Homo sapiens: one gene and its partners. The protein of the gene in region 4 interacts with the protein of the main gene of each other region in a pairwise test. Each region holds a gene or a part of one and is shown on either strand. Other genes may lie near its edges.

Region 1 (7,875 bases), on a different chromosome or scaffold from region 4:
AAGAAAAAAAATTATAAAATTAGTCGTGTGTGGTGGCACATGCCTGTAAACCTAGCTACTCCACAGGCTAAGGTGGAGTTCAAGGCTACAGTGAGTTATGATCACACCACTGCACTCCAGTCTGCAGAACAGTGGGGTACCCTGTCTTTGTAAATAATTTAAAAATAAAATGAAAAATTCTGTTACAGGAATTTAATTTAAAAAAGAAAATTGGAAGAAAAAACTCACTGAAGTTAGAAAAATCATGAATAGCGGATTTTCAAAATTAGATTAAAAATAAGGGAAATATAAGAATAGCTTCAATCAAATGGAGCAGGCCAATGAAGAAGAAAAAGAATATTAATGGGTACACTGGAAAGACTTAGGGGTATTACAACACTTAATTTCCTCCTCTGAGAGGAAGTCAGCCGATTGTGTCTCAAAGAATTGCATTAAAAGAAAGTACAAAACCTTTTAAAAGTTCAAAGATTTTGGGAAATTACCTGGTTCAGTCTACTCAATCAGATTAAAAAGGACTGCATGATATTAAGTAATTTAGTCAATGCCACTCTTGAAATAACTAAATACAGAATCAATGCTTCAAATCCTGATCATCTGATCCCAAGAACAGAGACGCTTCTGGACTAAATTCAAGACAAACTTTTGCTATTATACCAAGGTCGCACAAAAATCTATCTAGCTCAGCGCTAACATAAAAATCTTTTGCTATTTGGGTCTTGCACCTTTCAGCTTTAAGAAATGGGCATAAAAATAAAAATAAAAAAGATTCCCTGCTTTAGAGAAAATAAAGTAGCTTTGTGAGTGCCCAGGCTGTCTTATTCATAGTATCCATGATATCTACAATTACTGGTACATGGTAGGCACTCCAGTATTTTTAAGAGTATAAAAATTTTTGAAAAATGAATCGTTCAAAACCTAAAATATATGGTGGAAAATATATGAGTCTTCTGATACCCCCTCAGGGAACATTACTTTTTGCCATTCCATAGCCTCTTAGCCTTTTGGCTGTCTTTTCCAATTTCCTTTTCCTTTTTAATGTATCTTCATAAATTATGAAAGATTAGTTGACAATGCTTAAGGCAGCAATCCACATTAAAAATCTGTAATTGTAATAAAACATCCATTAAGTTTATTTTTAAAGTCACTTTAAGCCAGTAGTGTCTTATTTTTACTCCCTTTTGAAACAGAAGCCCCTTACAATGAGGATTTTGAGGAACCTGTCCTGTGTCCCTCTTACAAAGTTCCCATTGGTAATTCAGAGAGGTCCTCAGGTTGAGAACTGCTGGACTGAACTCCTTTTATTGGCTCCAACTCTTCTTATTTCTTCCTATGAAGAAATGCTAGTCTTTATTGAGTTGAGAAAACATTACAAGAATCTGTGAAACAAAGCTTCTAATACCTGTATAAAACTGAAAACCTTGTGACTTTATTGGTAAACAGCCAAGAAACACAAGAGACTACTAGTAGCCTCTAGAAAGAGGTACAGGTCGATGAAGTGACCAAAACCGGATGCTGATTTGCTGATTCTGCCAATTTCTTGTTAAATGGCTTTCAGTAAGTGATTAACTTTTATTTTCTAAATTCAATAGAGATCTGCTGGTACTCTGTAAGATACTGTATGACTAATAGTAACGGTTCCCAAGACTTAAGAAAACGTAACTGCAAATTGGCCACAAGTCCAAGGGGTCGGGGCCTCTGCTATCAGCATTGACCTTTACTCTCGGGAGTTCATATTTCCATCTGTAAAACTAGAAAAGATAAAGGGACTTATTCACTGAGCTGTTGTGAGAATAAATGAGCACACGAAACCATTTGGCAGTGCCTAGTACACAGTAAGCAATCTAATATTATTTATGTCATTGTATCCATATATATATGGATACATACATATATATGGATACATGGATACATACATATATACGGATACATACATATATATGGATACATACATACATATATATGGATACATACATATATATGGATACATACATATATATGGATACATACATATATATGGATACATACATACATATATATATATGGATACATACACCTGGCTAATTTTTTTATTTTTTAGTAGAGACGAGGTTTCACCATGTTGGCCAAAAAGAAACAAAGGAAAAGTCCTATCAATTAGATAGCAGTTCTATATTACAGGCAATAATATTTTTTCTTAAAAAAAAAAAAGGTAGAGGATGATGGAAACCGCTCCTCCCACAAGTAAAACAGCTGGAGCTCTCAATCTCAAATTGCCAATCCGTCACTCACATATTCAGATCTAGGGCCACTAATCATCATCCGTGGTCCCGAGCTGTGAGAGCAGTAGCAAACAAATAGGAAGAAAAAGAAGAGACACCAAACATCAAAGGGCTGGATAGCTTGTAAAAAACCAAAAGTACCTCTAGTATAGGCGACACTAAAACTTTACAAGTGAGTCAAAACGGCCCCCTATGGAGTTGGAATGCAACACCCAACTCCGTCCCCACCTCTCGGAGCTCTCAGCCTACACGCTGCAGGGGCGCGAGCCACAGCCAACCTGGGGAAGATGCGACCCAGGTGCCCGCCCCAGGCCGGGGCGCCGAGTGCCAGCGCCAGGTGCAGACGCCGCCCCGTCTCCGCGGAGCCCGGGGATGCCCACGCCGGGGCGGCGGCCGGGAACCCCGGCCAGCGGCTCTCCGGGACCCCAGTCCCGCCTGCGCCCTCTCCAACGTCCGGACACGCCGTGACAACGCGGCCGGGCCCGGGGCCCGCCCCCGGCCGGTGACCGCAGTGCGCGGAGGCTGAAGTCGTAGGTGGGCGTCTGGCTTCCCCGGCCTCCTCCATCCCTCCCCGAACCTGAGCCCCGGCTCCGTCCGCCTCCCAGCCGTCTCACCGGCCTCCCGCCCGCCTCTCCGCCGCGCGCGCCCGCCTTCCGGCCTCCCAGCGCTCAGTCCTGCCGGAGGCCGACGGGAGCCGCCGCCTCCAGCTCGCGCCTCCGCTTCCTCTCGGACTCCTCCGGCTGCCCCTCACCCCGGCAAGTGGCCAGGAGAAAGCCAGCTCGCCGCTGGGCCTCCTCCCACGCTTCCCGGCCGCGACCAATGGGCCCCCGCCGCCGGGAAGCCGCGCCCGCCCCCTGGCGGTGGAGGACCAAGCGGGCGCCCGGGCCGGCCAGAGGGAAGGGCCGGAGAGCGGAGGGAGGGGTCTGCGGTCCCGCCCACCGCCCCCGGCCAGGCGCTGCACAATCTGAACTTGCCACGTGGGAGCTGCCGCCGCCGCAGCGGCCCTGCGCCGGGTGGCACTACGGGAGGGAGAAAAATGTGTCACCGCCGTCTCCCCACCGTTTACACGCACAAAATCCCAGCCTCAAGGGCAGAACATTTTAAATGACCCACCCATCCTAGAGATGCGCCAGTTAGGTCATCTTATATATCTTGAGATAGCTGAGATGGTCAGATCAACCAAGGACCTTGGGTTATTTGCCGTTTGACTTCTTGAACCCTAGGAAACTGATTCTGAAAATCCTACTGTCCAGCGTCATTAGAATTCTGATCACCTTTAATGCACCACCCAAGAAGAACAGTAGTCCTTGCATTTTCCAAGTCACGTTTATTTTTTAAATTATAAGATACACAATCGTTAGAAATATTTTTTCTCAGGAGATTTCCTACAATTGTGTTGATAATTGGGAAGTTAATCCAAATCTTACTACATAAGACCTTAGAATGCAAAATTATTTCATAATTCAGATCCATATTCTAAAATAATGAATAACTGTTACCTAGTATTTGACAGAATATTGGGATCATCAGTGGTTGCAGAAATTAAATTGCATTTAAAAATAGGGTTTGACTATAGTGTGTTAATATAGAATTAATAATCTACCAAATTTTAGCTTTCCTCCAAAAATATAAAACACACAAACTAATAGTAACTATGAATTCTGGAGTTTGTGATCCGTGATCAGGGGAGAAAGCATGAAATGAATTCTCATTGTCTTCCATGTGCCAATATTATGCTATTTGTGTATTACTTAAATCAAAAAACTAAGACTCCAAAACTGAGTTTAAATATCTTGCTCAAAAATACAAGATAGTAAGTTATGAAGCTGGAATTCCGGCCTAGCTTCATGTAGCTCCAAATAAACAAAAAGGCACTTTGCTTATTATAGTACCAAAAAATCATAACACTTACTGTACACATGCCTCTCCTAGACTGCTATGTCTCACTGAAAGAGTTTATGAAGCCTCTTGAGTAGGGAGGTCACGGTGTATTTCTGAAAGAGCAATCTGCTCTGTAACCGAGCCAACCAGATTGGAAATTACATGTGACATATTCTTATAGCACCACACCTGAAACAATTCCTGTGCATAAAGTTTAATGTGTTAGTAGCCTATTCTCCACTGACCATAAGATATAGCTTAGAACCCTTTGGTAGGTAATGAAATTAATAACAATGGGTCACAACCAACATTTTGTTGCTGTTGATTCACTGAAAAATAGAAAAAAAAAACAGTTCAAAGCATAAATTCAGGATAAGTATTCTTCATGAAACATTTGTACAGCATCATGTGTGGGTGAGTGTCTGTGTGTCTATGTCCTGGATACAGTAGAAATTATATTTCTTAATATGGGTTTCAATTTTTTTAACATTGGTAAATCACTTCTTTAGGACTCCTGTTAATCAGCCAGTTCTTACACCTATAAACGAGTAAGGATAACTTCCTACTTTTACTTGGCAGGAGGTAGGGGAGCCAGGAGAAGTATTCAGGATTAATGATTAAGCTTAATAAAACCACAGAGCTTTACAGCTCCAGGAGGTATAAGCCAAAGGTGTTGGCTATTACAATAACTACCGATAATTTATATTATATAATAATAGCTACTGATAATGTATATTTCTAAAGCTGATATTTATTGTGTGCTTATTGTGCACCAGGCACTTTTCTAAGCACTTTATATATATAGACTTATTTAATTCTCACAATAATCCTATAAATACAGCGGAGAAAAGTGAAACTTGCTCAAGGTCCTTCTGCTATGACCAGACAGAGCTAAGATTCAAACTCACGTGCTCAACTTCAAAGCCCAACTTTTTTGTTGACTCGAAAAGAATATACAGAGAGTGTGACATCCAGCTTCTGAGTGTCATCCTTCATAGCACAAGCAACAAAAGAGAGGATTAAATATGGATGATGTTGAGAAAGGCAAGAAGATTTGTATTCAGAAGTGTGCCCAGTGCCACACTGTGGAAAAGGCAGGCAAGCACAGGACTGGGCCTAATCTCCATGGTCTCTTCGGATGGAAGACAGGTCAAGCCGTTGGATTATTTTACACAGATGCCATTAAGAACAAAGGCATCACCTGGGGAGAGGATACACTGATGGAGTATTTGGAGAATCCCAAGAAGCACATCTCTGGAACAAAGTGATCTTTGCCAGCATTAAGAAGAAGGCAGAAAGAGCAGACTTGATAGCTTATCTCAAAAAAGCTACTAATGAATAATAATTGGCCACTGCCTTATTTATTACAAAACAGAAATGTCTTATGACTTTTTTATGTGTACCATAATTTAATAGACCTCACACACCAGAATTCAGATCATGAATAACTGACAGAATATTTTGTTGGGCAGTCCTGATGTAAAACTAAGACTGGCTTGCAGTTAAATGAATATGTTCAGTTTTTTTGAATTTTAATAGTAATCCAATTCAGTAAATGCTATCACTGTTTACCCTTTCTAAAGACATGATTTGATTAGACTTTGTTAGTAATGTTCAGCTTTTCACAAAGATGGTGAATGCCATCTTAAAACATATTGGAGATTGGTTTTATATTTGGATTTATATAACTGGTTATGTGAATATATTTAAATACTGGAGAAATTCCTTCACTATCTCAGAACCAAGCAAGATTCACCTGTGTTTTGTGTTCATTTGCCTCTTAAAGGCAAGGGTTGAAGATAAGGTAGCAATGTCTACTTTATATTTTTGGCCTTAACTATGTCAATCTAATTAGAATTCCCTGTATTTAAAATAGTTCCTTTTACTTATTGAAAGGCATTTTAGTGTGGTGTATGTGTAATATCAAATAAAGATTATTTAACACTTCTCACATTTTATAGATGATCTGTAAGATAATATGCTTTTAAAATAGTAGCAAGTTAAACTTCACTCTTGAATTATTTACAATCTAAGTCAAACTAAGTTATAATTTAGGATTGTCTTTAAACAGCCATTCAGAGGCTGGGCGTGGTAGATCATGAGGTCAGGAGATTGAGACCATCCTGGCTAACACGGTGAAACTCGTCTCTACTAAAAATACAAAAAATTAGCCGGGCGTAGTGGCGGGCACCTGTAGTCCCAGCTACTGGGGAGGCTGAGGCAGGAGAATGACGTGAACCCGGGAGGCAGAGCTTGCAGTGAGCTGAGATCGCACCACTGCACTCCAGCCTGGGCCACAGAGTGAGACTCTGTCTCAAAAAAAAAAAAAAAAAAGCCATTCAGAAACAGAAAATCGTAGAACTGCTGTGTATTTGTGATTGGGAATGGTGCTTTTGCCAACTTAAAATGATTAAAGTAGAGGAGATATACACAAATTTTAAAATTATATGTGATCATAAGGCTTAAAAACAAAACCACAAATCATGATTAAAAGAAAGGAATGTTCATTCTCTCAATAGGTGCCATATTTTATATAAAACTATAACCTGCTTTATATTACTGTAACTATATAAGAATATATAAAAAATGTATATATAAGAATTAGATAATATTGTTAAATACAAAATTTCCAAAAAGCCTCAGAATTTTAATTGCACCCACCCTCAAGAAGAAGAGTCCACTTGGTATCATTTTTCTGTATATGGAGTAGTAAATTATAGGCAAATATGGCTACCAACAATTCCCCCATTCCTGTAAGTTCATGCCACTTTGTTTTTTACCATCAAGAGGTCAATCTATGTCCTCTTCTCTTGAACCTAGGCTGGCCCCGGGACTTATTCTGACCCATAGAATGCATGGAGGAGATCTTATGTGACTTATGGGCTTAGACCCTAAGAGACCTTGCAGCTTCCATTTTCACTAGCTTCAGGATCTAGTCACCATATAGGAAACTCAGACAACTACTGAATAATGAGAAACTACATGCAGAGAGAGGCCTAGCTCTCTCTCTCCATCCACACCATCCCAACCACTTCCCCAAGGCACCAGCTATATGAGTAAAGTCGTGTTGCATGTTCTAGCTCCAGCTAAGCTCCTACCTGAGTATATCACATGAGTAACTCCAGACAGTACCACATGGAGCATAACTGCCCAGCTTAGACCAACAAACCCACAGAAACTTGAGAAATAACATACTTAAAAAAATTTACTAAGTATTGTGGTAGTTTGTTACACAGCAATAAATAACTGAATCAGGGAAGAAAACATTTGTAGGGGGAAAAGAGTTGACCAACTCTGGGGGTAGGATTACTTTAAAATATTCAAGCATGTTTATATTGGATTATAAACTCAAACCTGTGGCAAGATGGCCAGAAACTTGCCTAGCTTCTAAAGAATATAGCAGAAGAGAGAGAAAAAGAGAGGTAAAATAATAAAACTGAAAGTAAACGTGTCAAATTTTATACCTATACAGGTTAAAATACCACATCTAAGTGTCATTTGAAAATTATTATTCAGAGTTTTTATAAAAATGTGAATTTAAAACCCTTAAACTTCATCCTTGCCTGTAAGGGCAAAATAGTACAGTTCAAAAAGCTGGAGTGCGCACAGATTTCATGGCACTGTATTTGATACATTAGCAACACAGCCTATAAAATGTGGTTTAATTTACTATGAAACATGGAGGATACAGTAGAATGGCATTACAGCAAATGTATCTTTGCACAAAAAAGACTCT
Region 2 (7,890 bases), on a different chromosome or scaffold from region 4:
TAAGGTGGAGAATCGCTTGAACCTAGGAGGTGGAGGTTGCAGTGAGCCGAGATCATGCCACCACATTCCAGCTTGGGCAGCAAGAGCAAGACTTCGTCTCAAAAAAAAAATGCCCGGTGAGGTTGACTCACGCCTGTAATCCTAGCACTTTGGGAGGCCAAGGCGGATGGATCACCAGGTCAAGAGATTGAGACCATCCTAGCCAACATGGTGAAACCCTGTCTCCACTAAAAATACAAAAATTAGCTGGGCGTGGTGACACGCGCCTGTAGTCCCAGCTACTCAGGAGGCTGAGGCAGGAAAATTGCTTGAACCCGGGAGGCAGAGGTTGCAGTGAGCCAAGATCGTGCCACTGCACTCCAGCCTGGTGACAGAGCGAGACTATGTCGCAAAAAAAAAAAAAAAAAAAAAAAAAAAATTAGCTGGGTGCAGTGACATGCCTATAGTCCTAGCTACTCAGGAGGATCGCTTGAGCCAGGTTACAGTGAGCTATGATTGTGCCACTGCACTCCAGCCTGGGCAACAGAGCAAGATTATTTCTTAAAAAAAAAAAAAAAGAAGGCTTCAACAGGTCCCCTCCAAGGGACTGGTCTCTGAAGCTCTTGCCATTGCCCAGGGAGGGAAAGTTCTGAGCAATAAAATTTCTTAAATAAATCGGCCAAGTCTGAACCATGTGTCAGCCAGGACCATGGTGCTGGGCCTCCCTCAGTGATGCCTTCTCTGGAGCTGGGAAGGGTGACTCAAAGGGAGCGTGGGAGCCTGCTGGGAAGGGTGGTAATGGATAGTCTCATCTCCGGCATATGGCATCAGCAAGGCCTGGGGCGCCATCGTCTTCCACTCCCTTGGTTCCTCTCTCTGTTCTTATGGGACTAGATACAAATTTTCCTGCTGAGCACTAAATGAGACAAAAGATAGCTCATGCTCAGCTTCTCCTTAAAAAGGAATTTCGGCATCTTTTCCACAAAACTGGGGTGTTGGTGGGGCATGGTAGCTCACGCCTGTAATCCCCCCAGCACTTTGGGAGGCTGAGGCAGACAGATTGCTTGAGACCAGCCTGGGCAACATGGCGAGACACCATCTCTACCAAAAAAAAACAAAAACAAAAATTAGCTGGGCATAGTGGTGCACGCCTGTGATTCCAGCTGCTTGGGAGGCTAAGGTGGGAGGATCCCTTGGGCAGGGAGGCAGAGGTTGCCATGAACTGAGATCACGCCAGTGCACACTAAGGGCATCCTAGACCTCACTTTGGGCAACAGAGCCAGACCCTGTCTCAAAACAACAACAAACAAAAAACCTGGGGACCTAGGATGTCTTTAAGGGCCCTTCAGCCTCTAACAGTACTTAAACCAATTAAAAGACTCCTGTTAGTTACCTCCCCACATCCCCACCCGCAGGACGCTCCGTGATGAGCAGCTAGCTGGCTGTCAGCTGTGTGGATCACCAAGATTGCATGGAGTGGGGCTGAGCTGACCAAGGGGGATGAGGGGCGGGGCGGGGCGGGCAGGGAGGGGGCGGAGCCACTCACCTAACAATAGCTGTAGTGTGTAGAAGATGCAACCGAATATGCTGTTGGATTGATTGAGGATGCTGTCCTGTCCCAGCACATGCTCCACCAGCCCGAAACCCCTGCCCCACCTGGCAGAGGGGTGGGGTGGGGTGGAACCAGGTTAGGACTGTCAACCCAGTGCCTTGGACCCTGCCCGAGAAAGGTGATTTCCAAGAAGCCACCTGGGCTATCCTCTGTTCCCCGACCTCCCATCCTAGTCCAAGGGTCGATGATCTCCTGGCACCGGGCACCTTTGGCCACGTCAGGATTCCATGTCACTGACCCTATCCTCCCCTCTCCCCAGACCAGGCCCGGACGTGGCTACTCCGTAGGCCCTGCTTTTCATCTTAGACCTTAAGTAAGTCTCTTTTTTTTTTTTTTTTTTTTTTTTTTTGAGACGGAGTCTCACTCTGGCCCAGGCTGGAGTGCAGTGGCGCGATCTCGGCTCACTGAAACCTCCGCCTCCCGGGTTCAAGCGATTCTCCTGCCTTAGCCCCCCCGAGTAGCTGGGATTAAGGCACCCGCCATAGCGCCCGATTAATTTTTCTATTTTTGGTAGAGACAGGCTTTCACCATGTTGGCCAGGCTGGTCAACTCCTGACTTCAAGTGATCCATCCGCCTCGGCCTCCCAAAGTGCTGGGATTACAGGAGTGGGCCACCGCGCCCGGCCCTTAAGTAATTCTTAAAATGGCAAGGCTGGTATAACGGTTCACTCGGTTTTGCATCAGAGACTGGGAGTCGGGGGCAGATTATCTTTGCCCTGGACCCCAGAATCTCCAGCTCCCTGGCCACTCACTCGCCTCCTCTGTATTCCGTCATTATGCTAACGCCTGGCCATCACGCACAGCCAGACCGGGCCACCTTGTTCCTGGGCGCAGCCATCGCCAACACCCCCCTTCACCTGCGCGCCGTCCTTGAGACCATCGTCAATCTCTACCGCCATCCTGCCTCCCCGCCTTTCCTGGTCACCGTTATTCCTTGGCATCCAATTCACGTGCGAGTCCCCGGAATAATCCCAGTCCCCAGCACTGTCTGGTCCCTTGCCTCGCACTCTTATTTCGAACACCAGTATCGCTGGGTAGCTCAGCCCCTGTGCAACGACCCCGCGAGCAGTCCAGCCCCGTGTCCGTTCCCCGGGCACACCGATCCCAGACTCCAGAATAATCATCTGGCATCCTGGCCGCCCTGCTCCGAGGCCCCACGCCTCCCACTCCCGTGCACACCTGGAGGAGAAGACGCGCGAACAGCTGATGGCGGTGCCCACGTCGCAGAGCGCGCGGTAATCCCGGTCCCGGGCGCGCGCCGCCTTCACGTGCAGCGCGTAGAGCGAGAGCACTAAGCCCGTCAGGCAAAGAGCGAGCCGCACCCAGCCAGGGCTCCCCCAGGTGCTGCCCATTATCTCCAGGTTCCGCCCGAGGCGCCCGCGGAGAAAACCAGCCACGGAGCAGGGGCCGGGCGGCGAATGGCCGCGCCCCTCCTGGCCCTCTGACTCGGCGATTGGCCGGCCGTGCTCGCACTCCACGACCCAAATGGCTGTTCCAGGGCGCTAGTCAAGCGGGCGAGTTAGGAAAACAGCGAAGAATGCCGGGACTAGTGAAGCGGGTAAGGGACGTGCGGAATCGCGGCCCCAGCGGCTGCCAGGCATGATGGGAGTTGTAGTCGGCGCGGCTGCAAGGCATCAAGGGAAATGAAGTCTCCACAGATTTAAAAACTGTTGGCCGGGCACGGTGGCTCACGCTTGTAATCCCAGCACTTTGGGAGGCCGAGGCTGGCGGATTACCTGAGGTCAGGAGTTCAAGACCAGCCTCGCCAACATGGTGAAACCCCATCTCAACTAAAAATACAAAAATTAGCCGGGCGTGGTGGCACATGCCTGTAATCCCAGCTACTCGGGAGGCTGAGGCAGGAGAATTGCTTGAGCCGGGGAGCCGGAGGTTGCAGTGAGCCGAGATCGTGCCACTGCACTCCAGCCAGGCCGACAGAGTGAGACTCTGTCTCAAAAAAAAAAAAGAAAAAAAAAAGTGTGTTAGTGTGGTTAACAGCATTTGCGCTTACCCTATGCCAAGTCCTGTTGTAAGAATTGCAGCATCCGGGACCTAGAGACCAGCGGATCAGGGGATCCAGCGAATACGGCGATCCGATTCGGGAACCAAGCATTTCCCCTGAAACTATTTCAGGCACCATTCGGGCTGCAGCCTCCCATCCTCCCGGGTCCTGCCTCACCAGTGCTTCCTGGTGGTCGGTCTCCCTTTCTCCCATACATTCACAGAACCACTCCTTTGGCCACACACACCCTTGACAGTATCCTAACCTCTCTACTATCATGGCGCCCGCCTGGCAACACCTGAGCTTGCATCAACTCAACAGTCAGTCTCTCCTTTCCAAGCTGTGGGCCAGATGAGGTCTCTCCTTCACAGACGTCCCATCTGATGGTGACCCATCTCTCCTACACCTTCAACCTCTCCATCCTCCCCATCTACACTGCAACTTGTTTCTCTTTCCCATCTCAGAAACAGCAACAAATCTCCCTTCACTAAGAGGTCCTTCACCAGCCTCCTCTCCCGGCATTATCCCATCTACCCCTCCACATTCAAGTTTTTGGAAAGATTCTACACTCCCAGTCTCTACTTCCTCACTTCTTCCTTGCTGCCCACGCCATAAACTAGCTGCTGCCTCCAGCATTGCCCTGACACCTAGTGGCTGGTGTCACCAAGACGCTAGACCCAATGGTTATTTATTTATTTATTTACTTATTTTGAGACGGAGTCTCACTCTGTCGCCCAGGCTGGAGTGCAGCGGTGCCATCTCGGCTCACTGCAACTTCCGCCTCCAGGGTTCAAGTGGTTCTCGTGCCTCAGCCTCCCAAGTAGTTTGGACTACAGGTGCCTGCCACCATGTCTGGCTAATTTTTGTATTTTTAGTAGAGACAGGGTTTCACCATGTTGGCCAGGCTTGTCTTAAACTCCTGACCTCAAGTGATCCACCCACCTCGGCCTCCCAAAATGCTAGGATTATAGGCGTGAGCCACCGCACCCGGCCAATGGTTGTTTTTCAGGTCTTCTCTTGCTTGACTTCCCAGAGGGATCCCTTACTGTTGCACCTACCCTTCTGGGAACTCTCTTCCTCTGGCGTCTGTGATATTTCCCTCTCCTGCTGGCTCCTCCCTCTCCAGATGCTGTTTCTCACATCTACTCTCTTCTAGAGAGTGTGGTAGACAGAATAATGGTCACCAAAGATGTCCCTGCATGAATCCCTGGAACTTGTGAATATGATAGGTTAAATGGCCAAAAGGGAATTAAGGTTGCAGATGGAATTAAGCTGACCAATCTCCTGATTTTATTTTATTTTATTTTGTTTTTGAGGTGGAGTTTCGCTCTTGTTGCCCAACTGGAGTGCAATGGTGTGATCTCGGCTCACTGCAACCTCCGCCTGCCAGGTTCGAGAGATTCTCCTGCCTCAGCCTCCCGAGTAGCTGGGATTACAGGCACCCGCCATCATGCCTGGCTAATTTTTTAAATTTTTAGTAGAGACAGGGTTTCGCTATATTGGCCAGGCTGGTCTTGAACTCCTGACCTCAGGTGATCCGCCCACCTCGGCCTCCCAAAGTGCTGGGATTACAGGCGTGAGCCACCGTGCCCAGCCTATCTATCTATTTATTTATTTATTTTTGAGATGGAGTTTTGCTCTTGTTGCCCAGGCTAGAATGCAATGGTGCTATCTCGACTCACCGCAACCTCCACCTCCCCGGTTAAAGCGATTCTCCTGCCTCAGGCTCCTGAGTAGCTGGGATTATAGGCATGTGCCACCACGCCTGGCTAATTTTTTGTATTTTTAGTAGAGATGGGGTTTCTCCATGTTGGTCAGGCTGGTCTCAAACTCCTGACCTCAGATGATCCACCCACCTGGGCCTCCCAAAGTGCTGGGATTATAGGCGTGAGCCATCATACCAGGCTCTATTGATTTATTTTTATTTTTATTTTTGAGACGGAGTCTCGCTCTGTTGCCTAGGCTGGAGTGCAGTGGCACAATCTTGGCTCATTATAACTTCCGCCCCCCCCCAGGTTCAAGCCATTCTCCTGCCTCAGCCTCCCGAGCAGTTGGGACTACAGGCGCGTGCAACCATGCCTGGCTAATTTTTGTATTTTTAGTAGAGACGGGGTTTCACTGTGTTGGCCAGGCTGGTCTCGAACTCCTGACTTTGTGATCTGCCTGCCTCAGCCTCCCAAAGTGCTGGGATTACAAGTGTAAGCCACCACGCCCAGCCTATTTTGTTTATTTTTTCAAAGACCCTTGACACCCAGGCTGGAGTGTAGTGGCACTGTCATAACTCACTGCAACCTCCGTCTCCCAGGTTCAAGCGATTCTTGCACCTCAGCCTCCCTAGTAGCTAGGAGTACAAGTACGTCCCACCACACCTGGCTAATTTATTTTTATTTTTGTAGAGATGGGGTCTCACTTTGTTTCCCAGGCTGGTCTAAACTTCTGGTTTCAAGCAACCTTCCCACCTCAAAGTGCTGGGAGTACAGGCATGAGCCACCACCACACCTGGCCTAATTTGCTGATTTTTATTTATTTTTTATTATTTATCTTAATTTTTATTTTGAGACAGAGTCTTGCTCTGTCATCCAGGCTGGAGTACGGTGGTGCAATCTCAGCTCACTGCAACCTCCCCCTCTCGGGTTCAAGCAATTCTTGTGCCTCAACCTCCCAAGTAGCTGGGATTATAGGTGCTGGCCACCACGCCTGACTAATTATTGTAATTTTTTTTTTTTTTAGTAGAGACGGGATTTCACCATGTTGGCCAGGCTGGTCTTGAACTCCTGACCTCAAGTGATCCACCTGCCTCAGCCTCTCAAAGTATGGGGATTACGGGTGTGAGCCGCCGTGCCTGGCCCAATTTTTGTATTTTCAGTGGAGATGGGGTTTTGCCATGTTGGCCAGGCTGGTCTGGAACTCCTGACCTCAGGTGACCCGCCTGCCTCCGCCTCTCAAAGTGCTGGGATTACAGGCATAAGCCACCATGCCTGGCCCACAGGGGTCCTTAAAAAATGAAGGAGGATGGCAGAAGAAAGTCAGAGGGAGATGTGAGTAAAGAAAAAAGACACAGAGAGCTGCAATGTTTCTGGTTTGAAGATGGAGGAAGGGGATTGTGAGCTAATAAATACGGGTGGCCTCTAAAGGCAAGAAAGGGTAAAGAACTGGATTCTCACTCTAGAGTCACCGGGAAGGAACTATCAACATCTTGATTTCAGCCCAGTGAGACTCTGTCAGACTTCTAAGCTACAGAACTGTAAGATAAATTTGTGTTGTTTTACATCATTAAATGTGCAGTAACTTGTTACAGCAGCAATTAGAAATGAATACAGAGGACTGGGCATTAGGCCTGTATCTCAGCTTTCTCTGATCTCCTGGTGTGTTCCTGTTATTTATTGTTGGTTTCCCCCAGAATGAGTGATCTAAGAGGAAGCAAAATAGAAGCCGCAATCTCTTTATGACTTAGCCTCAGAAGACACACACTGGGGCCAGGTGCAGTGGCTTATGCCTATAATCCCAGCACTTTGGGAGGCTGAGGCAGGAGGACCACTTGAGCCCAGGAGTTTGAGACACCCTGGACAACACAGGGAGACCCTCACTCTATAAAAAATAAACAAAATTAGCCAGGTGTGGTGGTGCACACCTGTAGTCCCAGAACTTTGGGAGGCTGAGACAAGACAATGACTTGAGCCCAGGAGTTTGAGACAGGTCTGGACAACGTGGTAAGACTCTGTCTTTATAAACATTTTTAAAATTAGGCGGGGCATGGTGGCTCATGCCTGTAATCCCAGCAATTTGGGAGGCTGAGGTGGGTGGATCACCTGAGGTCAGGAGTTTAAGACAAGCTTGGCCAACATGGCGAAACCTCGTCTCTACTAAAAATACAAAAATTAGCCGGGCATGGTGGTGGGTGCCTGTAATCCCAGCTACTCAGGAGGCTGAGGCAGGAGAATCATTTGAACCCGGGAGGTGGAAGTTGTAGTGAGCCGAGATTGCCTTCCTCACTCCAAGAGTTATAAAAGATTTTGACCATATTTTCTTCTAGCATTTAATCAATTAATTAATTAATGTGAGACAGTCCCACTCTGCTGCCCAGGCTGAAATGCAGTGGTGCAATCTCGGCTCACTGCAACCTCTGCCTCCCGGATTCAAGTGATTCTCCTGCCTTAGCCTCCTGAGTAGCTGTGATTACAGGCACCAGCCACTATGCGTGGCTGATTTTTGTGTTTTTAGTAGAGACGGGGTTTCACCATATTGGCCAGGCTGGTCTCAAACTCCTGACCTCATGATCCGCCCTCCTTGGCTTCCT
Region 3 (7,022 bases), on a different chromosome or scaffold from region 4:
GGTGTTATACATTCTATGGGTTTAGACAAATTTACAATGACATGTATTCATCATTATAGCATCAGGCAGATTAGGTTCACTGCCCTAAAAATTTTCTGGGCTCTGCCTATTCATCCCTCTCTCTACCCAACCCCTGATATTTTTATTGTCTCTATAATTTTGCCTTTTCCAGAATGTCATATAACTGAAATCATACGGTATGCAGCTGTTTCAGATTGGCTTCTTTCCCTCATAATACGTGTTTTCTGTATCTTCTCATGGCTTCATAGTTTCTCTTTAGGACTGCATAATATGTCATTCTCTGTATGTATTACAGTTTATCTGTTCACCTACTGAAGGACATCTTGGTTGCTTCCATGTTCTGGCAATTATGAATAAGGCTGACATGAACACCCACATGCAGGTTTTTGTGTGGACAGTTTTTCACTCCTTTGGGTAAATACCAAGGAGCATGATTGCTGGATGGTAAGAGTATGTTTAGTTTTTTTAAGAAACCACCAAATTGTCTCCCAAAGTAGCTGTACCATTTGGCATTCCCACTAGCAATGAATAAGAGTTCCTGTTAATCCACATTCTCACCAGCATTTGGTGTTGTCAGCGTTCTAGATTTTAGTTAGCCATTTTAGTAAGTGTGTAGTGGGATCTCATTGTTTTAATTTGCATTTCCCTGATGACATATGACGTGGAGCATCTTTTTCATATGTTTATTTGCCATCTGTATATCCTCTGTGATGAGGTGTCCATTAAGATCTTTGGCTCATTTTTAAAATCAGGTTGTTCATTTTCTATCTTTTTTTTTTTTTTGAGTACAGAGGACTTTATTGATGGTACACGACAAGATAGAGCTCTTTGTGGGGTCTGCATGGAAACTGTGAAGAGGGGAGATTCCCAGTGTGGTGGGGGACTGAGCATGGCAGGGACTGCCCAGAAGCTGAAGGTCTCTTTCTTCCTCTTGTGCTCTCACTGGGGCTGGTTGTCGAGCAGTCTTACTCCTTGGAGGCCATATGGGCCACCACCCTGTTGCTGTAGCCAAATTCACTGTTGTACGAGGAAATGAGCTTGACAAAGTGGTCACTGAGGGCAATGGCAGCCCCAGCATCGAAAGTGGAAGAGTGAGTGTCACTGTTAAAGTCAGAGGAAACAACCTGGTGTTCAGTGTAGCCCAAGATGCCCTTGAGGGGCCCTCTGACGCCTGCTTCACCACCTTTTTGATGTCATCATATTTGGCAGGTTTCTCCAGATGGCAGGTCAGGTCCACAACCAACACGTTTGCAGAAGGACACGGAAGGCCATGCTAGTGAGCTTCCTGTTCAGCTCGGGGATGGCCTTGCCCACAGCCTTGGCAACACCAGTAGATGCAGGGATGATGTTCTGGAGAGCCCCACAGACATATGCCACAGTTTCCCACAGAGGCCATCGAGTCTTCTGGGCAGGAGTGGCAGCATGGATTGTGGTCACAAGTCCTTCCACAATGCCAAAGTTGTCATGGATGGGCTTGGCCGGGGGATTAAGCAGTTGGTGGTACAGAAGGCATTGCTGATGATCTTGAGGCTGTTTTCAGACTTCTCAGGGATCATGCCCATTATGAATATGGGGGCATCAGCAGAGGGGGTAGAGATGATGACCCTTTTGGCTCCCCCATTAAGTGAGCCCCAGCCTTCTCTATGGTCATGAAGATGCCAGTGGACTCCACGGCATACTCAGCTTCAGCATCACCCCATTTGATTTTGGTAGGATCTTGCTCCTGGAAGATGGTGATGGGATTTCCATTGATGACAAGCTTCCCATTCTCAGCCTTGACGGTGTGGTGGAATTTGCCATGGGTAGAAATACTGGAACATGCAGACCATGTAGTTGAGGTCAATGAAGGGTCATTGATGGTGACAATATCCACTTTACTAGAGTTAAAAGCAGCCCTGGTGACCAGGTGCCCAATATGGCCCAAATCTATTTACTCTGGCCTTCACCTTCACCATGATGTCTTAGAGACATGGCTTTGAGAAGAGGATGGTCAGCACTGAGTGACCTCAGCCAGCACCCATACCCACCTCTCTTTTTGTTGAGTTTTAAGAGTTCTTTGTGTATTTTGGATAACAGTCTTCATCATATATGTCTTTTGAAAACATTTTGGGCTGGGTGCTGTGGCTCACACCTATAATCCCAGCACTTTGGGAGGCCAAGGTGGGCGGATCACCTGAGGTCAGGAGTTCAAGACCAGCCTGGCCAACATGGTGAAACCCCGTCTCTACTAAAAATACAAAAATTAGCCAGGTGTGGTGGTGTGCACCTGTAGTCCCAGGTACTCGGGAGGCTGAGGCAGGAGAATAGCTTGAACCTGGGAGGTGGAGGTTGCAGTGAGCCAAGATCGCGCCACTGCACTCCAGCCTGGGTGACAGAGTGAGACTCTGTCTTAAAAAAAAAAAAAAAAAAAAAGAAATGTGTTATTTAATGTCTAAGTATTCAGTGATTTTCCGGCTATCTTTCTGTTATCAAATTGTAATTTAATTCCTTTTCGTCTGAGATCAGATATTGGATGATTTCCATTTTGGCCAATTCCAAAACAGCTACAGCCTCACTCATTACTTTGTGCTTGTACTCTATAGAGATGGTTATCCTATTTACTATTCTGACTATACTTTGGCGCTTTTTTTTTTTTAACATCAGTTATTGCCAGGTGCCCAAACATGAATTTAATATATTATTTTGACTGAAAATCAACTATGTGTTTTTAATTTCCTCAGATGTCCCCTGTCTACCTAGACTCCATTCCTACCTGTTCCACTGGTACCCAACTCCACTACTCTTCACTGCTCATATGCTTTGGAGGGGTCAGTCTTTATTATCTAAGGCCATGTAACATATCACATTCCCTAGCTATTGTGGTTTATTTAAAGGTGAGCAAGTGACCAGTCCAATAAAACTCTTTGCTTGGAATGCCAGAGAAATACATTCACTTTATTTTTCTATGGTGTATAAATGAGATACCTAAAATTGCTTTTGTCATTTTTATATTTCATAGATAGCAAGTATACAGAGTGAGGCAGAACAGATAAAAGGGTCAAGCCTTGGGCTTTTCCTATTACGGGTATCAATAAAGGATCTTTTTAAGACAGTTTAAATTAGGTTTTCTGTTACTTAGAACAAAATATCTAAATGACACAGAATCTGAAGTGGTCATTACTATTTGATTTCCACTCTTATATGCTTCTGTCATTGCTTCCTAAAAAGGAAAAAAATATGGTTTGTGGCACATGTTTCAGCAAAAGACAAAGGTCAAAGGGTGAAGTGCACTGATATTTAACTCTCTTTGAGAAGGAGCTGAATCCAGGCCTAAGAAATCTCATGTTCAGCACAGGAGATTGAACACTGACTGAGAGCTTGGTAAATTCTAGAACTGACCAAGGAGATAACCGAAAAACAAGTTGAAAGGATATTCTGAATAAACAAGTGAAATAAAAATAAGCCTATTGTGGGAAAACTTTTATAAGCAATCCACAGTTTTTGTTGTGTTTAAAAAAAATCAGCATTAACAGCCAATGGGCAAAATACAGCCAAAAGACTGAGGAGAGGGCAGAGGGGCAGATTTAAATTAACGTAGCAGCAATGCTGGGCTACTGGAAAAAAGATGACTGATAGTAGGACTAAAACTGCCACCAAAGTTAAAATGCCTATATAAACTGTTTCAACAAAGTCACACTCAGAATATTTTTGTTTTTTTAATTAAACTTACGCAGGCTGGGTGTGGTGGCTCATGCCTGTAATCCTAGCACTTTGGGAGGCCACAGCAGATCACTTGAGGTCAGGAGTTTGAGACCAGCCTGGCCAATATAGTGAAACCCCGTCTCCACTAAAAATACAAAAATTAGCTGGGTGTGATGGCATGTACCTGTAGTCGCAGCTACTTGGGAGGCTGAGACAGGAGAATCGCTTCAACCCAGGAGGCGGAAGCTACAGTGAGCTGAGGTTGCACCACTGCACTCCAGCCTGGGAGACAGAGCAAAACTCCATCTCAAAAACAAACAAACAAAAACCAAAAAAACTCAGGCAAACCAAAAAAGGCATCATAATGTAATAAAAGAAAATATAGGTTATTTGGCTAGTTTTAATATGTTTACTTTAAAAAATAAAATACAGCAGAGTATCTAATGTCATCAAGACCCAATATGGAAAGGTAGCTAAATAAACCATTCGTGCTCTTGCATTTGTTTCTGATTTACTTGGTACCATACCTAAATAATAATGTGCACAAATCTTTTAATTGATTGTATTCAGAATTTATTAAAAGCACCACTTATTGGATAGTTTATTAAATGCATGCAAGTATCTGTATATGATTTCTTCAGCATATGTGTGTTTAAGGCAACATGAGAGAGAGCCAGAGACAGGAAAGCTGTCCATTTTAAAATCAAATTGGTGTATATCTCCTGCTTATTCAACATGTTTTGGTCTTGGAATTGTTTCTCTAATAATGTACTGGCAAGTCAGACGTTAAATTATTTAAGGTTTCTAAACACTGATTTGGTGGAAGTGCTAACAATCCTTGTGAACAAAGATAAGCTTCAGAAAAACTGAACAGCACTAAAAAAAAGTATCTACTTTGGAAAATAATGATCCTTTGTAATTGATTTTGGTTTTAGATATAAAGTTTACATTGGTAATTCTAATGTCTGTTTACCAGTTTAATTTTAAAAAGTACTTGGCTGGGTGCAGTGACTCACACCTATAGTCCCAGCACTTTAGGGAATCTGGAGCAAGAGGATCACTTGAGCCTAAGGATTCCAGACCAGCCTGGGCAACATAGTGTGAAACCCCATCTCTACAAAAAAAATTTAAAAATAAACCTTGCATGGTGGTGCGTGCGTGCCTGTTGTCCCAGATATTCAAGGCTGAGGCAGGAGGATCACTCGAGCCTGGGAGGTGGAGGGTGCATTCAGCCATGATTGTGCCACTGCACTCCAGCCTGAGCAACAGAGCAAAACCCTGTCTCAAAAAAACACAAGGAAAAAAAAAGTACTTAGCCAGGTGCAGTGGCTCATGCCTGTAATCTCAGCAGTTTGAGAGGCTGAGGTGGATCACTTGAGGTCAGGAGTTAGAGACCAGCCTGGCCAACATGATGAAACCCCATCTCCACTAAAAATACAAAAATTAGCTGTGTGTGGTGGTGTGTGCCTGTGGTCCCAGCTACTCAGGAGGCTGAGGCAGGAGAATCGTTTGATGCAGTGAGCCAAGATTGTGCCACTGCACTCCAGCCTGGGTGATAGAGTGAGACTCCATCTCCAAAAAAAAAAAAAAAGTACTTATCACAGAGACATAACCATAAACTTAAGTTCTAATAGTACTGAAAGTTATTTTAAATAGAAATCTTTTACAAACATCACAATAGTGTCTTTTATAGAATGCCTAGACAAAACCCAGTTCTCTAATTATTTTCCTTATAGGAAATCTAGAAAAAACCTTCAGTAGAATGGTACTAGTATGACAAATTCAATATTATAGTCTCAGAAGTTCTTTCATTTTTAAAGGATAAAAAAAAAACCAAAAGAAAGTCAACATGGAGTCAGTGAAAAAATTCTACACCAGAAGCAAAGAGGTGCACTAGATCTACATGAAGAAAAGCACACCACTGAGAATTACTTACAATAAGAAAATGAAAAAAATCCAGAAAAATACTGTGCTCTCAGGGACATACAAAAAATTAAGAACTCAGGGTGGGGGAAAAAACAGTATTAAAGAGGACTGGGACTAAAAAAAAAAAGACTATAAGTTAAATAAAAACACAATAGAAATTTAAAATCCAAATTATAAGCAGTAAGGAAATCAGTGATGGAAGGGCCTAACTTAAGAAGCTATGCAAAAGAAAAAAGTTAGAAAGGATGTGTGAGATGACAGCAATGAGAACAAGAAAGGAGAGCCAACCAATGAAAAATTCCTGGAGAAAAAAACAAGAGCAAAACAAAAGGCACCAACTTAATATTTTCCTCAGCTAAAAAAAAAAAAAAAAAAAAAAAAAAAAAAAAAAAAAAAAGATTTCCACATCTAAAGGACCTGTTATCTTTTAGATAAAATTATTGGATTTAAAAAATCAGTAGCTATAACCCTAAACTTTGAAATATTTTAATCATTTTACATCTACAATGCAACAGATGGCTGTATTTGCTATGGAAAAGGCACATTTATCCAGTCAGGATGGTGTAAATCTGGTATTTTACTGCGTACCTTGATTATTTTGTATTTGGGTTTGGACATTAACTTGCTGAGGGCAGAAACAAGAACCTGAACTCATGCCTTAAGATAAAAATTGCATTCTTTTTATACACCTACTACATTTGAAACTATGCAGTGGCTCAATCATGGCTCACTGAAGCCTCAATCTCCCAGGCCCATGAGATGCTTCCACCTCAGCCTTCCAAGTAGCTGGGACCACAGGTGTGTGCTAGCACGCCCAACTAATTTTAAAGTTTTTTGTAGAGATGAGCTCTCCCTATGTTGTCCAGGCTGGTCTTGAACTCCTGAGCTCAACAGATCCTCCAGTCTCGGCCTCCCAAAGTGTTGGGATTACAGGCATGAGCCACTTCGCCCAGCCCACCCAAGCATTTTTATGGGCTCTGAAATGTACTACGTAAAAAGGACACGCTTTATTGGTTTAGAAAGTTAAGTATACATTATTATTATGATCAGCAGTAGGATAGCTATTTTATTTCCACCAGTCATTGATTAAAACAATCCAAGTGTAGTAGGTATTAATCAGTAGCTTAAGCTGGAAATAAAAATTTACTATGGGAACGACTACAGTGCTTTCAAATAACCGACATATGAAAAATTTACAGCTAACCTCTTCCAAAGAGCTGTCCATACTGCAGTCTCCAATGCTCTTCCTCCTGTTGTCTCTTGAAACCACACCAATCAGGTTTTCTTCCTCACTATTCTCCTGAAAGTGCTCTTGCAAGGTCACCAAGGACCTTCCTATTACTAAATCCAATGGTCATCTCCTAGTCTTCATCTTACTTGACTTGTCAATCAGC
Region 4 (7,104 bases):
TTACTACTGCTGCTACTACTGATTACTAGTAGTATGACTCACTAGTAGGCAGCCAATAAAAATGCATCGAAAGGAGTCCCATCTGCAGCCAGAGTATACCACAAAACTGTTTCAGAGCTGGAGGAATATCTATCACTGACGGTATAATCTGAATGAGTCTTTCCCTTGTTTTGCTAAAGTAGGAGTCAATCATGTTAACAGTGAACTTGAGTTAATAACAATGCCTTTTTTTTTGTTTATTTGTTTCAGAGACGGAGTCTAGCTCTGTCGCCCAGGCTGGAATGCAGTGGCGCGATGTGGGCTCACTGCAAGCTACGCCTCCCGGGTTCACGCCATTCTCCTGCCTCAGCCTCAGCTGGTACTACAGGCGCCTGCCACCAGGCTCGGCTAATTTTTTTGTATTTTTAGTAGGGACGGGGTTTCACCGTGTTAGCCAGGATGGTCTCGATCTCCTAACCTCATGATCTGCCCGCCTCGGCCTCCCAAAGTGCTGGGATTACAGGCGTGAGCCACCGCGCCCGGCCCATACCAATGCATTTCTAAATGGTCAGAAATATCTGAAGAAATAAAGCCATTCATCAATTAGTATGTCTTCTTTTTTTTTTTGAGACAGAGTCTCACTCTGTCGCCCAGGCTCGAGAGCAGCGTCATGATCTTAGACCTCATGAGCTTAGACCTCCCAGGCTCCGGCAAACCTCCCATCTCAGCCTCCCGCGTAGCTGGGACTATGACAAGCATCACTGCACCTAGCTAGTTCTTTTTGGGTTTTATTTTGTTGTATTTTTTGTAGAAATGCGGTCTCGCCATGTTGCCCAGGCTGGTCTCAAACTCCTACACTCAAATGACCCTCCCGTCTCAACCTCCCAAATTGCTGGGATTACAAGCACCGTGCCTGGCCTCAGCTGTTCTTAAACTGAAAAACTGGAATAAAGATAGTTGCCTTGTTTAGCTGAGACACTGGCCCTTCGAGTAGATGTTCACTGTACCCGTGTATACCTTATGAGCACAATGACTCTCTGCATCAAAATATTATTTCTTAGAATTGTGCCTATCAAAGTGAGGCATTCCAAAAAAAAAAAATTAAATCCAATTATCTAAATATTCCCGTTAAAACAACAACAACTAGTTCCTGCCAGGCATGGTGGCTCACGCTTGTAATCCCAGGACTCTGGGAGGCTGAGGGAGGCGGATCACCTGAGGTCGGGAGTTTGAGACCAGCCTGACCAACATGGTTTCTACTAAAAATAAAAAAGTTAGCCGGGCATGGTGGGGGGTGCCTGTAATCCCAGCTACTCAGGAGGCTGAGGCAGGAGAATCGCTTAAACGCGGGGGGCGGAGGTTGTGGTGAGCCAAGATCACGCCATTGCACTCCAGCCTGTGCAACAAGAGCGAAACTCCATTTAAAAAAAAAAAAAAGTTCCTCCACATAATTTATGTTCTTCCACTTTTCTGCTTTAGATGTGGTCTAAAACTATTTTTTTTTTTTTTCCCAGAGAACACACTGTGTTCTCAACTTCATCTTCAGGTTCGGCCTAGACAAAAAAAAGAAAAAAAAGAAAGAAAGGTGGGAATGTACCTGTAAACTGGTTCTATGACCCTTCATCTTCTCCGGAAGGCTTACTTTGGACATTTCAGCCCGCCAAGTCTAAATGATATATATCAAAAAGGTGGAGGTAGTGCTATAGGCTCAGATCGAAGATTAGACTTGCTAATAGAATGTTGATCCCATGAGTAATGCTCACAGCTGTGGCATCCAACAATGGAATTAACATTTCAACAGGAAGCAGAGAGCCATCCCAACAGAAAGGGCCACTAGATCCTGCTTCAGAGCACCTAACAACAAAAAATTACCCTTCCAGAGGCTATACTAAGTGCGCCTCCTAGGATCCCACCTACGGATTTTTAAAAATGAATTATTTGGTTATAAAACGCAGCAAGTGCTTAGTTTGACAAACAAGATCAGTTGGTTAAAACACCGACATGGAAAATCCGTTTTTTAAAGTGTCAAAATGATTACGCCTCCTAATGGTCCACGCATTTTTCACATGCCTTTTTTCCCCTCCCAGAGAAAGGAGCAGTCGACAAACGCACTTGGCAAATCCTCTAGCAATTACCCTGTACAACTCAGCCCGTCTTATCTCCAAAATGAACGACTCATTACAAACTCAAAAACGAGGTCACTGAATTCTCCTTTGCACTTCGCCCAAGGACTGCAGAAACCAATGCTACATTTTTGCAGGAACCCACTTTTGATTTTCCACGGTCTCCTTCACAATGCGCGTCTGGTTAGCAGCTCCTGCCTGGGCGAGCTGCTTCCAGGAGACTAACACCGTCCAGGCTGGCGTTCGCTCAGCGCCTCTTTCCTAGAGGTAGCCTGGCCGATCCGAGGCACCGGGCAGCTCCATGTCCATTGAATAATGGCGTTTGCAATTCAGCCTCCCCGCCTGGGCGACTCGACACCTGAAAACTCGCCGCCCAAGGTTTTTGAAATCGGGTAACGCTGGAGAGAACCGACACGAAGGCTGACAAGGGAGACGGCGAGAGCAAAGAAAGGCAAGCCCGCACCGGGGCAGAGAATGCTATGGGAGAGCTGCGAGGCGCACCCGACACGCCGCGCCCGAGCCCCTCCGCCTCCACCCCCCGCCGAGGGCTCCGTCCCCGGGCACTCCGCGCGCCCTGCGCGGCTCCCTACGGGACGGCTCCAGGAGCGCCCGGCCCAGCAAAAGCGCCCCTGTGCAATTCTGCCCGCCCCGCCGCCCCTGCAGCAGCGCCCCCAAATCGCGCCCGCCCCCTCCCCCACGCCCCATTGTTCCTGGGTGGCCGCGGGCAGCGAGCGCCCCCGGGCTGGGCGGGTGCTGAGGACCCCATGGCCCCTACTCACCCACTACTCCGCACAGGAGCACGAAGCACAGCAGGAGCGCCATGGTGGCTGCCGTGCCGTGGGCGGCGGCTGCAGGTAGGCGGCTCTCGCTCCTGGTCCCAGGCTCCCCGCGCCTCGCGCGCTCCCGACTGGCTCGCGGCGGCGGCGGCACCTCTGCACCCTCCGCCCCTCCTCCCAGCCCCCGCTCGGCAGGTGAACTCGCGTCACTTCCGGCAGCGGCCCGGGCCGGGCTGCGAGCGCCGGCTTCTCCAGCCGCGTGGGGTTGCCTTGGCAACCGGGCGAGGCGCTCTTCTGTCCCCGGGACCCTCCCGGCGCCGAACTCTCAGCCTCCCGGCGCGCGGCGTCGTAGGTCGCGGGCGGCCGCCTCCCACGCCGCAAGCCTGCGCAGGGGTCCCCGCCTCCATCCCTTAAGCTAAACCAGGGTTTTGCGCGCGGGGGTGGGGCAGCCCGTCTCCCACATACTGAAATTGCGTTGGCGCCCTCCTTTAAGGCGAGGCACGGGACACTCCCAGGGGCCGCCACTAGGGCGGCTCCTACCCTCCGCCCCGCCTGCACCCACCCGTCCCACCCCTCGCGGTTTGCCCCAGGGGCAGGTTCTCTGACCTCATGCTCACGGGATGCGACCTGTGCAGCCCCTGGCCTTCGCTCTCTTAACGAGCCGCTCTGGCTGACATAAAAAGCGCGAGAGGGCTTTTCTCCATCTCTGGTAGGGATAGAGCCCCTCTGCAGCTACCGATTTGGGAAATACCTGAGGTTTTTTCCACTTGCACAGAAAGGCTATTCTAGCCCTGAAGCTGGCTAGTAAGACGCTATAGTCCCAGCTACTCCGGAGGCTGAGGTAGGCAGACAACTATTATCCAATATTAGTGAGTGAGCTTTGAAAGTGGGGCTCAGTAGTTGTGGTTGAAGGCGTCAGTTGGAGTGTGGGGTCGGGGAATTGGAGATCTTGAAAGTTGTTGTCGGCTGCTCTTCCAGATAACGTTTATTTATAACTACATAGAGACTTTGTAGTGCCGCGACAGTTCCATAACAGAAATGAATTGAAGAAGAGGAGCGGTGGGTAAGAGCTTATTCCGCGGAGTGGGGCAGTAACTGGGCAGGTTTCATAGAAATGGCACCTACTTCGGGGTTGCTATGAAAGTTAAATGAGATAATGCACAAAAAATGCTTGGCACCCTGCCTGGCACGTAGTTTTAATTAGCTTCCACTTACTGAGTTCTTGCTTACAGGGTTCCTGCTTATGTAGTCTATAAGCTTACATAGTTTGTAAGTTCCTGCTTACTATCTAGACTAAGCAGGAACCCCCGTAAGCAGAATTCAGTAAGTGGAAGCTAATAAAACTAATATTGGAAAATTCTTATTATGCATTGAACCAGAAAAGAGAAGGGGCAAAGAAATCAGGTATCAAGAAGACCAGAATTGCGCAACTGCAGTTTAGCCTGGTGAGTTGCAATTCTGGCTGCACATGAAAATTACTTGGAGAATGTTTTAAAAATACTAGTGCCTGGCTGGGCGCGGTGACTCACGCCTGTAATCCCAGCACTTTGGGGGCCCAGGCGGGCGGATCATGAGGTCAGGAGATCGAGACCATCCTGGCTAACACGGTGAAACCCTGTCTCTACTAAAAATACAAAAAATTAGCCAGGCGTGGTTGCAGGCGCCTGTAGTCCCAGCGACTCGGGAGGCTGAGGCAGGAGAATGGCGTGAACCCCGGGAGGGGGAGCTTGCAGTGAGCCGAGATTGCGCCACTGCACTCCAGCCTGGGCGACACAGCGAGACTCCGTCTCAAAAAAAAAAAAAATATATCTATCTATCTATCTATCTATATATGTATATATATACTAGTACCTGAGCCTTACTCAAGTGATTCCAATTTAATTTGATTTAAGGGGAATCCTGCTTTACGGCAGCCCAATAAATGACAGATGACCAGTGGTAGTAAGAGGAAGTGGCTTTGCAAAATCATACCATCTGATTGTAAAGTTCTGCCAAAGCTTTTACAAACTAATAAGAGTTCAATACAGACGTAAGACAACATGAGTAACGGCTAGGGACTTCCCATTTGAGCAAACAGGAATTCTACTGGATATAATTGCGTGTAAATAATATTTGGAATTTAAATTTTTACTCACCACACTAAATGAAATCAAGCAGAGAAGAGCAAGTATTGAAGTTGTTCATCTGTTTAACAGTGTTCTACGAGAACTTTTCTATACTCGCTCTGTCGCCCAGGCTGGAGTTCAGTGACCCCATCTCGGCTCACTGCAACCTCCGCCTCCAAGGTTCAAGCGATTCTTCTGCTTCAGCTTCCCGAGTACCTGGGACTACAGGCGCGCGCCACCACGCCCGGCTAATTTTTGTATTTTTAGTAGAGACGGGGTTTCACCATATGGGCCAGGCTGGTCTCGAACTCCCAGCATGTTGGGAGGCAGAGGTGGACGATCGCCTGAGCCCAGGCGTTCGAGACCAGCCTGGGCAACATGGCAAGACCCCCCATATCTACTAAAAATAAAAAATGAGCCGGATGTGATGGCGCGCAGTGCCTGTAGTCCCAGCTACTCCGGAGGCTGAGGTAGGAGGACAAATATTATCCAATATTAGTTTTGTTATCTTCCACTTACTATGTGCAGGAACCCGGTAAGCAGGATCTCAGTAAGTGGAGCTAATAAAGTGAGCCCAGGAGGCAGAGGTTGCAGAGAGCCTTGATCCAAGAAGGAGAAGGAAGCAGAAAGAAGAAGAAAAGGAGGAGGAGGAGGAGGAAGAATTACCCAAAAGGATTTAGGAGGAGGAGGGGGGGGGGAGGAATTACCCGAAAGGATTTAGGAGGAGGAGGGAGGAGGACCGGGAGGACGAAGGGAGGAGGAAGGAGGAGGAGGAGGAAGAGGAACAACAACTACCCAAAAGGATTTTTATCTTAATCCCTTTCCTGGTACTTTTTCTTCTAATTCTTAGCTTTTGCCTCCTTCTGTGTTAGGCATTTGCATACCTATTAATCACTTTTCTTGTTCTAAATACTTCTAGAAGGCTGAAAAAGCACATTTTTTTTTTGTCTTCGTCACTTCTGAAAGCACATACTAGGTTCTCAAGTATTTCTCAAGTTGAATTGAATGCTTATTTTCTATGGCAATATGTTAATAAAATTTAAGTATCTGTGCAACAACAAATCATTGCACCTTAAATATATCTTTTCAGAATGTGCTTTTTTGGGAGAGGGGGACAGGATCTCGCTCTGTCGCCCAGGCTGGAGTGCAGTGGCGTGATCTCGCCCACTGCAACCTTGGCCTCCTGGATTCAAGCGATTCTCCTGCCTCAGCCTCCTGAGTAGCAGGGACTACAGGTGCACTCCACCACACCCGGCTAATTTTTGTATTTTTAGTAGAGACAGGGTTTCATCATGTTAGCCAGGATGGTCTAGATCTCCTGACCTCAGGTGATCGCCCACCTTGGCCTCCCAAAGTGCTGGGATTACAGCCGTGAGCCACTGTGCCCAGCCCAGAATGCGTTTTTTAAAACGTAAGTTTTACATCAATTTTTTTCTGCTGCTTTAGATTACTGAACACAGATTTTTTTAAAATGTACCATTCTAAGATTTAAATAATCTTGAAAGAAGCAGTCGATCTTATTTGGGGAAGTATTGTTCTTTAAAAAGTTACATGAAGTCATTTTTAGACTTTGGTTTGTGACTAAATTATTTCATAAACAGTAGCTAAAATTATGCAGTTATGTGAAATATATTAAAGACACCTTAAAATGCATTTGTGGCTGTTGTCAGCTTGGAAATTATGTCTTCTGGAAGCTATAATAAGATAATCTCATTTATTCTGGAACATATAAATTATTCTTTTTTGTCTTCAAACCAAGCTAAGAAATAGTGCACAGCCATTAAGTGAATTGCCCTGTCTTAGTAATGCACCAAGCACTCCACATTATATAGCCTCTAAACCAGCTTAAAGGTGATGATCCTTGCTCCATCAAGGCTATAATTACAGATACACAAATAACTGTGGTTAATAAAGCATCCATCCTTACAAAAATGTCTCAGCACTAATAGATCTATGAACACACCCATAGATTATTAAAATCCTACAATCATATTCAAAGGTTAATTTATACTTAAGAATTAAAGGATTTTCATCTCTTCTCAGCTTGGAATATGAAGACATGTGAATTAAGAAACTCTCTTTTTTTTTTTTTTTTTTTTGGGACGGATCTCCATCTGTCAC

The links.
Region 1: the proteins of CXADR (region 4) and FAM3C interact in binary tests that used the Homo sapiens proteins (3 or more experiments, as listed by UniProt).
Region 2: the proteins of CXADR (region 4) and VKORC1 interact in a two-hybrid assay, tested with the Homo sapiens proteins (one study listed by BioGRID).
Region 3: the proteins of CXADR (region 4) and ANKRD46 interact in binary tests that used the Homo sapiens proteins (3 or more experiments, as listed by UniProt).

Annotation. Positions count from the first base shown.
Region 1 is NC_000007.14:121,393,290-121,401,164, forward strand, and holds the start of FAM3C (protein FAM3C precursor), read right to left. Parts: upstream 3,020-7,875; 5' UTR 2,873-3,019; exon of another isoform or gene 2,836-2,872; intron 2,733-2,835; exon of another isoform or gene 2,400-2,732; intron 2,183-2,399; exon of another isoform or gene 1,661-2,182; intron 1-1,660. UniProt on the Homo sapiens protein: May be involved in retinal laminar formation. Promotes epithelial to mesenchymal transition.
Region 2 is NC_000016.10:31,091,787-31,099,676, forward strand, and holds the start of VKORC1 (vitamin K epoxide reductase complex subunit 1), read right to left. Parts: upstream 3,012-7,890; 5' UTR 2,944-3,011; coding exon 2,771-2,943; intron 1,636-2,770; coding exon 1,526-1,635; intron 1,081-1,525; coding exon of another isoform or gene 997-1,080; intron 1-996. Other genes in the region: zinc finger protein ENSP00000375192-like, read right to left, coding at 3,098-3,592.
Region 3 is NC_000008.11:100,549,738-100,556,759, forward strand, and holds part of ANKRD46 (ankyrin repeat domain-containing protein 46), read right to left. Parts: intron 1,997-7,022; exon of another isoform or gene 803-1,996; intron 1-802.
Region 4 is NC_000021.9:17,508,950-17,516,053, reverse strand, and holds the start of CXADR (coxsackievirus and adenovirus receptor isoform 1 precursor), read right to left. Parts: upstream 3,012-7,104; 5' UTR 2,925-3,011; coding exon 2,882-2,924; intron 1-2,881. UniProt on the Homo sapiens protein: Component of the epithelial apical junction complex that may function as a homophilic cell adhesion molecule and is essential for tight junction integrity.